Regions from separate parts of the Homo sapiens genome. Here region 2 is linked to region 1. The links come from fine-mapping of genetic effects on plasma protein levels. A gene starts in region 1. The other region holds a variant in brackets. All regions are shown on one strand. Distances are between the middles of the regions. Region 1 holds the start of TIMP4 (TIMP metallopeptidase inhibitor 4). Region 2 overlaps PPARG (peroxisome proliferator activated receptor gamma).

Region 1 (5,373 bases):
ACATGTAAGCCTTGTAGTTGTTGCCAATCTTCTGGACCCGGATGTCATACTTGGAGTCAATGAAAGGCTCTGCAGTGGCATAGGTCTGGGTGAGAGCCACCACGCTGGCAATGTCCTGGAAGTCGTAGTGGTTTTCCACTTTGACCTAATGTTAGAGCAGGGCAGAAAGGGGGAAAGGGAGACACACACATACACACACTGAGAAGTCACAAGGGCCCTGAGCCTCCAAACCCACCAATATGTATCCGATCCAGACACTAATCTGGGTGCCACATCTCCCCAGGAGGCCCCTTCTCCCTAGCTTCCCTTCCCAGAACTCAAGGGCCACACTTGCTGCAAAGGACCCAGAGGACCAAGCAGGTGGCTTGCATTCTGCTTACTGAAAGAGGTCTGGTTGGGTGACACTCATGGCTTTAGAGGTGGCAAATCATCTTCTCTTTGGAAAGAATTCATCAGTGACAGAGGGAGAATAGCAGTTCACAAATGGGCGCTCTGAAAACTGCCCTTCTTGGTTCAACCCTGAAGCACAGCAGGCCTCTCTGCCTCACCTTGCCCATGCCTGAGTGAGCGTGGCCAATCTTCACCACCACAGGGAACGTGGGCAGTGTCAGCTGAAATCAGAAGAGAAATGAATAAACTGTCAGAGTGTGCCCATCTCTCCGTGGAATCCTACACATATTTTTCTTGGGAATACCCTTGGGAGGGTTCTTTAAAGAACTAGTCCAATCTACTTGCTTTACAGATTAAAAAACTGAGACCCATGGAATGACAGTGAGTTCCCAGGGTCACAGAGCATATTAGTGGCAGTGCTACAAGAACCCTGTACTCTTATTTGGTATACCCTACATCTTTAAAATGCACTGTCAATTTTCTCTGCATTAGACAAAACCTGGGCAGGACTGGCCCTCAGACAAAGAGAATTAAAAAAAGAAAGTATCTCTGAAAGAGTGAACTTTACTATATGTAGATGTACTTTAATAAACCTGTATTTTTATTTTAAAAACACATCTTTGGCATCTTGATGTCCCTGTCAGCATGTACCCTCTTGGTACCTACAACCTTCAAAGGCCCAGCTTTCCTGTAATGATCCTGGTTGTTTTCTCCCTCTTTCACACTCTTCACTGCTCACCAATACCCCAATCTCACCACCAAACAAGGCTTTGCATGTGAAGGCCCATTTCTTCCCAGCTTGGGGTTTGAAAGAGAGCCGGTAGAAGAATTCAGTATGTTTATAAATGCAGAGAGATCCTTAGGGGAGCGAACTCTACACTGAGGTAGCCATACTTTAACAGAGGAGCAACAAAACCTTAAAAGAAGGATTATCCTCTAAGGGCAAGATTTCAAGCTGCTACAAAATGGTGATGTAAGAAGTAATATTGTGGAGTGGAAGGAGCACTGGGCTAGATGTCAGGAGACGAGTACTCTAGTCCTCTTCTGCCACGGACTTTCTACAAGTCACTGTATCTCACTGGGCCTCAGCCTTCACATCTGTCCAATGAAGAGATCAGATGGGATGCTTTCTGAGCTCCCTTCAAATAGTACATCAGCCTCTATCTTGGTCTGAACATTGTATGAAGAACCAGCCTGGATGCTAACCCGGGCATTTCATCTTTCAGTCAGACTCAGCTCTCTTTCAATTCCCTTCTTTTCAAATATCACTAACACCATCAAAATGAAAAGGTATCCTTTGAAGGAAATAATGTTGACCCTGATGAAAAGTCAGACTCCTATGGGAACTAAGATTTGAACAGATACTGGGGGTATCTGGCCTGAGGATCTCAGCATTCCTGGTTGAGGCCAGCCAAGGATGGGAAGAAGAACTTCAAAGGGCTTTAGAAATCACGTAGTTCAACTCTACTTTATGAAGAAAAAACTGAGGCCCAGAGAGGCAAAAGTCACAAAGCTACAGTGACAGTCAGAATTGGAACCCAGCCTCCCACTATCCAGTCCAGCACCATGTGGAAACATCCCACAGCAATAATCCCATGGAGATTTGGGATTTGGAGGCTTGCAACACTGTGCCCAAACAGCAGACAAGGCTCTGGTCACAGTCACCCCCAAGTCCCCTGCTTCTTTGTTTTTTCTTTTACTTTTTTTTTTTTTTTTTTTTTTTTGAGACGGAGTCTCACTCTGTCGCCCAGACTGGAGTGCAGTGGCACAGTCTCAGCTCACTTCAACCTCCGCCTCCTGGGTTCAAGCCATTCTCTTGCCTCAGCCTCCTGAGTACCTGGGACTACAGGTGTAGGCCACCACGCCCGGCTAACTTTTGTATTTTTAGTAGGGACGGAGTTTCATCATGATGGCTAGGGTGATCTCGAACTCCTGACCTCAGGTGATCAACCCGCCTTGGCTTCCCAAAGTGCTGAGATTACAGGCGTGAGCCACCACGCCCAGCCTGCTTCTTTGTTTTCTAAGCTGTCCCACCTTCTAGAACATGACAGAGTCTCCAGTGAGAAGGGACATGCAATAAAAATCAATGTAGTCTAGGGCCTCGAGAGGGCTTTGAGGTCCAAGGTTTGCCCTAAGTGATGGGACACTTTGTGTTTTGTACACCAAGAGCGCTGTCTCCAGCTATCTGGAGAGTCTGAGGCTCTGGGAGTGAGAAAGGGTTTCTAAAGCACTGGCTGCTTCTTTGACATCTCTCCCCACCCCCCAGGCAACAGAGCCAAGACACACACACCCCAACTTTCTCTGTCCTGTTCTATTACTGTTTGCTGTTGCTTTGGAGCCTCATAAATAGGGCATTGAAAGCACTTCCTGCAGCTGAAAGAAGCCCTGAGTAGCTCGTCTCATTCCCAGCGTGCAGCTCAGCAAGGGGTCCGTCCTTCTCTGTCACTGTCTCTTTTGCCTGTTGTAATTCTGTCTGCCTCTCTGGGACTCTGCCTGTCTCACTCTTTCTGTCTGTGCCTCTCCTCACTCTTGTTCTTTCTGCCTGAATCACAGCCCTCAGTTTTTCTGTCCTCATGCATTTGTCTTTGTGGCTCTTTCCGTCTTTCTGCCCTTGACACCATCCCCTCTCCCAGTGCTTCCCCTCTGCTTCCAGATCGCTTCATGACTTAGGCAGGGAAACAGAGGTCAGGGCCTCCTTCCAGGCTTCCCTCTGCATCTTACTGAGTATGCAGGTCGGAAGAGCCTCGGGTCCTGCCTCCGCGGGTGGCCTAGAGCCAAAGGAAGGCGGAGCCCGTCGGGGCGGGATTGGCCCTTAGGGCCACCTCATAAAGCCTGGGGCGAGGGGCACAACGGCCTTGGGAAGGAGCCCTGCTGGGGCCGTCCAGTCCCCCAGACCTCACAGGCTCAGTCGCGGATCTGCAGTGTCATGCCTGGGAGCCCTCGGCCCGCGCCAAGCTGGGTGCTGTTGCTGCGGCTGCTGGCGTTGCTGCGGCCCCCGGGGCTGGGTGAGGCATGCAGCTGCGCCCCGGCGCACCCTCAGCAGCACATCTGCCACTCGGCACTTGGTGAGTCCGAGGTCCGCGAGGTCCACAGCAGGGGGTGGTTGTGGGGGATTAGTATCTGGCCAGCAGTACACCAGGAGTCCAGAGGAAAAGGGAGGAGCTCAAATTCTTACCGGTTGTCTCTTGCTGAGGCTGATGGGTGGAGAAGGACCAGGCGCCATAGCAACCTTGCAAGCCCAGAACCTGACTGATTCATAAGGAAATGAAGATTTCATCAGGGACTTCCATAGCGACCTCCCTCACTCCGGCCATACTGCAATTATGGAGTGTCATTACACAAGGTGTCACCGGAGCTATCTGATGATTATTCTGAACTACTAGACTGGGGACAGAAAGGGGAGGGGAGAGGGCTTGCATTGTAACTACCCGTGTCTGTCCAGGCCTATAACTGAGGTTGCCACCAAGCCCCTATGGCAACACACACGTTCTGTCCTTTCTCTTCCCTCTGCCTGGAATGCCCTCCCTCACACCCTTAAATTCCTGGCAGACTCCTACTCATCCTTCAAGGGCTAACTTAGGTCTCTCCCCTTCTCTGCAGGCTCCCGGGCTCCTTGGTGCCGCCTCAGCATCTCTAACCGTCTTAGCGCTCCTACTATGCTGTGCTGTTGTTCTTTACACGTGTGCACTCCACTAGATCAAGAGCTCGGCAGGATGGGGACCCTGTCTTAATCACATCTATGGGCCTAGTGCCTAGTGCAAGGCCAGGCACAGAGGAAGAACATCATCAACAGTTTTTGGTTATTAATGCTCAAATGGCAAGAGATGCAATACCTCAGTGCAGGGTCAGAACATTTATGAATTCAATAAACATTTACTAATATCAACTGTAGGCGGGATGAGAGGCCTTGACCACAGCAATAGATAAACTTCACACCGACTGCCCTGAAGGGGCTCCTCCTCCCTTCTCTACTCTGACTCCTACCCTGTGCCCCACTGCACAAACGGCTATGGAGAACTAGAGCTCTCCAGACTAACTGGTTCAAAAGGCAGAAACAGCTTAGCGGTTATAGGACCTAATAAGCCTGAGGGGTTTGGAACTTCCAGTGACTGCAGGGGAGGTGTTTCCAGGTCCCCCTTCTCACACATCACGTTGCTCACAACCCAGCCACACCAAAACCAAGAACTGCCCTATAGACTTCTTCATGGACCCTGGATCATCCAGACCTCAGGTGTATTGCCCCCACCAGCTGCTGAAGGTTCCCTCTTTTCTCTTCCTATGCAGTGATTCGGGCCAAAATCTCCAGTGAGAAGGTAGTTCCGGCCAGTGCAGACCCTGCTGACACTGAAAAAATGCTCCGGTATGAAATCAAACAGATAAAGGTACATGGGGGCAGGCTGGGATGTGTAGCCCCTAAGGCTGATGGAGAAAGTGGAGTCTGTGTTCTGGGAGGGCTGGTAGCTTTCAGGTGGCCTGGCTCAGTAATCCTTGGGTCTAGATACTGAAGTGGAACTGGATGAGATTTGGAGGCAGAGCCCATAGAATCCCAGGGATATTGCCAGGGAGGGCCTCAGCATCCATCTGGTCCCACAGCTGCTGGTGTATGGTGCCACTACAGGTACCTACTGGAATAAACCAAGGTTTAGGTGTTTTTTGTTGTTGTTGTTTTGTTTTAAGAGAGAAAATAACCCAGTAGGGACATCTGAGGACACAAAATCCTCAACTAGACTTTTGCTTACATTTTTAGGCTGAGAAGTGAGAGGTTTTTGTCTGTTAATATATACAGTACACTCACTGACCCAATATTGCCTTTTTTTGTAATTGCCTGTCAGATGTTCAAAGGGTTTGAGAAAGTCAAGGATGTTCAGTATATCTATACGCCTTTTGACTCTTCCCTCTGTGGTGTGAAACTAGAAGCCAACAGCCAGAAGCAGTATCTCTTGACTGGTAAGTTAAAAGACCAACAACTGGCCTTAATATAAT
Region 2 (5,373 bases), 280 kb before region 1:
CCTCCTAGGCTCCTTGCTCTGCACCCACATTGTAAAAAAGGAGCCAGAAACTCAGGCCAGCCTAATTTCTTATGGCGGCTGGAGAAACAGGGTGTGCAGCTTTGTTTCTTCTGTGTGTCCCCTCTTCGTTCCTGGGCTCCACACACAGCGGGAGGAAGGAAAAGGGAGCCCGTTCCAGGGAGGTGCTGGGGGAGGGCTCTTGTGGGAGCCTGGAAACCCTTTCTTGACTCTTGACCAAAGTTACTTTTCTTCCTATTTTTATTAACACACATCCCTACATGTGTTTGTGTCCAGAGAAAGTACTATGAATAACTGATGACAGATTCGTTAACTTATGATTCATCCTGGGGGAGAGAAAGAGGGAGAAAGGAGCAGGAGCTTTGGAGGCTGAATATAAAGTGTTGTCAAATATTTAGCAAATGATCTTCCAAGCCACAGGGAAAAAGTCAGAGATGGGAATTTGAAAGCTGCCAGGATTTAAAAGCCATTTAATGCTAACCATCAGTGCCAGAGAGCTGAGAGCGTTTCTCTTCCTCCTTCCATTGGCAGCAACAGCTCCGATAATGTGGAAAGGCTTGGATGGGCTGCGGAGCGCTGGTGGGAACTGAGACCAGGCAGCGGGGCTGAAAGACTTTTTGTTCAAGAAAGCTTGTAAATAAGGGAGCGCCTCAGAAGTGGACTCTATCTTGTCTACTGCCTGTACATTCTCTCTTCCAAGAGATCCCTGACCATCAGCTCTCTACACAGAAGACTCTAGCCAGTCATCTGGGTGTTTGAAAATAAGTTTCAAAATATCCTGATGTTTGGCATCAAGGAAGAAAAAAAAAGAGCCATATGACTGACTGAATTTGTCACTTTCCTTCCAAATGTTTTGGTGTTACTTAGACAATGGCTTCAGTCTTTGTCTATCTGTCATCCTAAAGGTTTGAGCTCAGAAAGGTCTCTCCTGAAGGGTTAGGAATCCTACATTTTTAGGGCTGGGGTCAGTACTCACTTCTATAACCTGATTCTTTGGAGATATAGTTATTTTTAAGCAAAAGATGAACAGGTCTTTCTTGATATTTTGGCTTGAAAACCTCAAGTCTGCAGTTATGTCTCCTGAGTGTAAATATCCTAAGGCAAGATAAATTAAGGGAGAAGTGGCAGGGAAATTTAGGTCAGTGGAAATAAGCGTCCCGCACAACAGACACCTCCAGATAGTTTGGTTACACTCGTAAGCTTGTCCAACCTGCCTTATTTTGTTGTTGTTGTTTGGTTTGATTTGGTTTGGTTTAGGCTTTTAGTAGCCTGAAGCCATGGTTTTTAATTTCTGTCCCTAGTGGTAAGTGGAAAAGAGGGATGAGGAAGGGGCTTTATTGGCCCAGTCAGAAACAGAAATGGAGAACCCATGACTCTATTCTCTCCCTTAGACACCCCGTAAGGCATTCTTCAAAGACATAGTATGATGAGTTCATGAGTAGCCAATGCAAGTGAATTTGGTGGATTGAATCAACGAATCTATTCACTGTGCCAAGAATGAATAGATTGTCACGCCTTCAGGGAACTTAGAATCTATCTGCTTGGGAGGCAAGCATTCCATTAATGATGCGGATAGTTAGCCTCTCAGTTCAGAAAAGAGATCTCTGGACAGAGTGGTCCCAAGGAGGAGGACAGGAATAATCACAGCAAAACTGCCTTGCAGAAGGAGAAAACAGAAAGTAGCTCTTCTCCCTCAGTTTTTTTTTTCTTTCATTGTGTTCCTGTTATTTTGCTTCTCTGGAATGTCTTTTCTCCTCCTCTCTACCTATTCCAGTCTAACACTTCCCTGAGGCCCTCTTCAGCAAATCCACAGATTCAGTCTCTGGGATTCCAATCTTCACTCATCTTACTTCCTACAAACTCTTACCATTCACCTGGCATGTGATTTCATCTGCGTATTTGAATCTGTATGAAAAAAGATTAATCTTTTCTCCTCAGTTTATAATCGGTAAATTCTTTTTGGCAGGTGTCAAATCTTTTTTATCTTTTTTTAGAGACAGGGTCTCACTCTGTGGCCCAGGCTGGAATACAGTGGCATCATCACAGCTCACTGCAGCCTCAACTCCCAGGCTCAAGCAATCCTCCCGCCTCAGCCTGCGAGTAGCTGGGACTACAGGTGTGTGCCACCACACATGGCTAATATTTAAAACTGTTGTGGAGACAGGGTCTCGAACAAGAGACCAGCTCAATCGATCCATCCACCTTGGCCTCCTAACGTGCGTGGATTAAAGGCTTGAGACACCATGCCTGGCGCAGATACCAAATCTTAAAAAAGTTCTGTGTTCCCCAGAGTTTCTAGCAGTGCTCAGTTGCTGGCCACTGGCTCTGTGGGTGCGCAGTGGCATTGATTAGTAGGTAGTATACGAGTAGGCTGCTGGTGGTGCGTGAAAATCTCGGTTAGGATTGTGGAAGAAGACTGAATTCTGGGTAATCCCAGGGATATGCTGCATATCAGCACATCCAGGCTACAAAACACATGCTCTGAGCAGTTTCTGATTCTGAAGTTCCCCTTCCCTTCTTAGTTCTGATTGTTAAAGCAGATGCAGAGTTCCGAAAAGTTGTAAATTGAGTAAAAAATTAATTTACTGAGAATGAAAGTGTATCAGCAGTTCCACTCACATATTTTAAAATGTCTAAGAAAGAAAAGAAAAATAAAGGAAGAAGGAAAGGAGGGAAGGGAGGGAGGAAGAGTGAGAGGGATGGAGGGAGGGAGGGGAGAAGGAAAAGGGGTAAAAAAGAAAGCCTGGGGGCTAGGGTGGGAAACACACAAGACTCAGTCTTCAAATACTATCAGCAATTTCATAATATGGTAATTTTTAATATTAAAAGTAAATTGTAAATGTGTCTTTATAAACAATATGCATAAAATAGATCATATTCTAAAACCTTTTCTTTTTAAAATGCTTTTTCACAGTAAATTTCTTAGGTGTCAGATTTTCCCTCAGAATAGTGCAACTGGAAGAAGGGAAATGTTGGCAGTGGCTCAGGACTCTCTGCTAGTACAAGTCCTTGTAGATCTCCTGCAGGAGCGGGTGAAGACTCATGTCTGTCTCCGTCTTCTTGATCACCTGCAGTAGCTGCAC[G/A]TGTTCCGTGACAATCTGTCTGAGGTCTGTCATTTTCTGGAGCAGCTTGGCAAACAGCTGTGAGGACTCAGGGTGGTTCAGCTTCAGCTGGAGCTCCAGGGCTTGTAGCAGGTTGTCTTGAATGTCTTCAATGGGCTTCACATTCAGCAAACCTGGGCGGTCTGGGGAAGCACATATGGAAAACACAACAGGGGGTTCAGTCAAAAAATCCTCTGGGCCCCGCCTTGGAGGCCTAGGCAGCTCTACCAAGCAACTCATCTGTATTTTTGGTTTGTTTTGCTTTGTATCTTAAATAGGTGGGGAGGAAGGGTAAGCAGATAATGGGTAAGAACTAAGGATGGAATCAGAACCAAAATGATCAGAGCTCTTTGCAGGGCCTTTTTCTGGCCAGGATGTAATCTGTGTGGTCAGCTGAGGGAGCATGGCATCAAAACAATCCTGTTCCCCAAATGAAGTTTCCTCTGCTAACGTGTTTCTACTCAGAAATCTCCTTTTCTTTTCTTTTCTTTTTTTTTTTTTTTGAGATGGAGTCTTGCTCTGTCATCCAGGCTGGAGTGCAGTGGCATGACGTCGGCTCACTACAACCTATGCCTCCCGGGATCAAGCTATTCTCCTGCCTCAGCCTCCTGAGTAGCTGGGATGATAGGTGCTCACCACCACGCCTTTCTAATTTTTGTATTTTTAGTAGAGATAGGGTTTCACCATGTTGGCCAGGCTTGTCTCAAACTCCTGACCTCAAGTGATCCACCCGCCTTGGCCTCCCAAAGTGCTGGGATTACAGGCATGAGCCACTGTGCCCAGCCAGAAATCTCCTTTTCAACTTCTGCTCCTTCCTGATGAATCTACGTTTTATAGCTTCTACTCAGTTTCTTATCATAGCTTCAAATATGCTTTTTTCACAAATATGCTTTTAAAAAAAGGTTTGTCTTTTTGCTTAATTTGCTTATGCTATGTTTGCTTAATATGGCATATTTCCAAAGGACAAAACACAGTTTTAAAATACTGATACATTTTAACAGAGGTTTCTTTTCAGTGGTAAGATTGCAAGCAATTTTCACTAGTTCTTCTTTAGATTTTTCTTTAGTTCAATTTGCAAATGGTGAACTTAAATTACTTTTAAGCAGTTTACTTTTTTCTTTATGTAGATCTTGTTAGATTTATTCTCAAATACTTTATAGCTTCTATTGTGAATGGACCCTTCATTTTCATTACATCTAATATATCCCCACTGATGTGCAGAAAACTAATTGATTTTAGTATATTGAAACAATTCCAATTTTCTGAACTTTTATCAGTTCAAATAGCTTTTAATCATGGATTTCTACTTTTTTTGGATAGATAATTATATCAGCAATGGTAGCTTTATTTATTTCTTCTTTTGCAGCATTAACCTTTCTCATTTCCTCTTCTTGCCATAGTGTGTTGGCTAAAACCTCCAATATGGGATTAAATAATAGTAGCAATAGTAGCAATTCTTGTTTTATTCCTAACTTTGAAGGAAATGCTTCTAATGGTTTATCAGCAACTATGATGTTTGCTATAGATTATGGAGAACATGTTTTACTCCTGGCTTTCCAGGGGTTTTACAATTTTAATTTGTTTTAGTCAGGAATGTTGTTGAATTTTTATCAAATACTTTTACATTTTTCTATCTAAAGAGCTATGATATCTGAAGAGTTATGGTTTTATCTTAACCTAGCACAGTGAATTACATTAATAGAGTTCCTTATACTCTTGTACTCACTTGCTAATATTTTATATAGAGTTTTTGTATTTGTAGGTGATACTGGTTTAGAGTTATTTTGGGGGCCATTCTTTGCCTGTTTTAGTAACAATGTTAACTAGCCTTATACACCAAGTTGAGAGGTTTGCCTTCTGTGTCAACGCAGTAATGATCTGTTCCCTGACGGTTTCTTAGAATTTGTTTGCAGAACCATCTGAGCTTGGTGATAAATCTATCACTATCTTTAATTTTTCTTCCATAGCTTTTATCTATTCAGGCTTTCTACTACTTATATGGTAAAGTTTTAGTAATTTATATTGGAATAAAGTTGTAGATGATATTGTCTTAGAATATGAAATGTATTATTTTTATTCACGCTCCTTAACTTAACGCTTTTTTTTTTGTGACAGAGTCTTAATCTGTTGCCCAGTGCAGTGGCATGATCATGGCTCACTGCAGCCTCCAACTCCTGGGTTCAGGTGATCCTCCTGCTTTAGCCTCCCAAGTAGCTGGGACTATAGGCATGAGCCGCCACACCCAACTAATTTC

The links. PIP is the chance, under the fine-mapping model, that this variant and not a neighbour inherited with it causes the effect. Sun 2018 read protein levels with aptamers (SomaScan).
Region 2: its variant is fine-mapped to the plasma level of the TIMP4 protein (Sun 2018, PIP 0.95).

The regions. Positions count from the first base shown.
Region 1 is chr3:12,156,784-12,162,156 of GRCh38, reverse strand. It overlaps TIMP4 (TIMP metallopeptidase inhibitor 4), which reads left to right and starts at 3,245. Exons shown (of 5, transcript NM_003256.4): 1 at 3,245-3,455; 2 at 4,675-4,772; 3 at 5,223-5,337. The coding sequence starts at 3,317. It overlaps SYN2 (synapsin II), which reads right to left. Exons shown (of 13, transcript NM_133625.6): 6 at 549-611; 7 at 3-145.
Region 2 is chr3:12,431,787-12,437,159 of GRCh38, reverse strand. PPARG (peroxisome proliferator activated receptor gamma) reads right to left here. Exons shown (of 8, transcript NM_138711.6): 8 at 2,816-3,262. The coding sequence ends at 3,015. Among named protein-coding and RNA genes, the nearest start is that of TSEN2, 50 kb to the left of the region's middle. The variant G/A (reference allele first, on the strand shown) is at 3,102.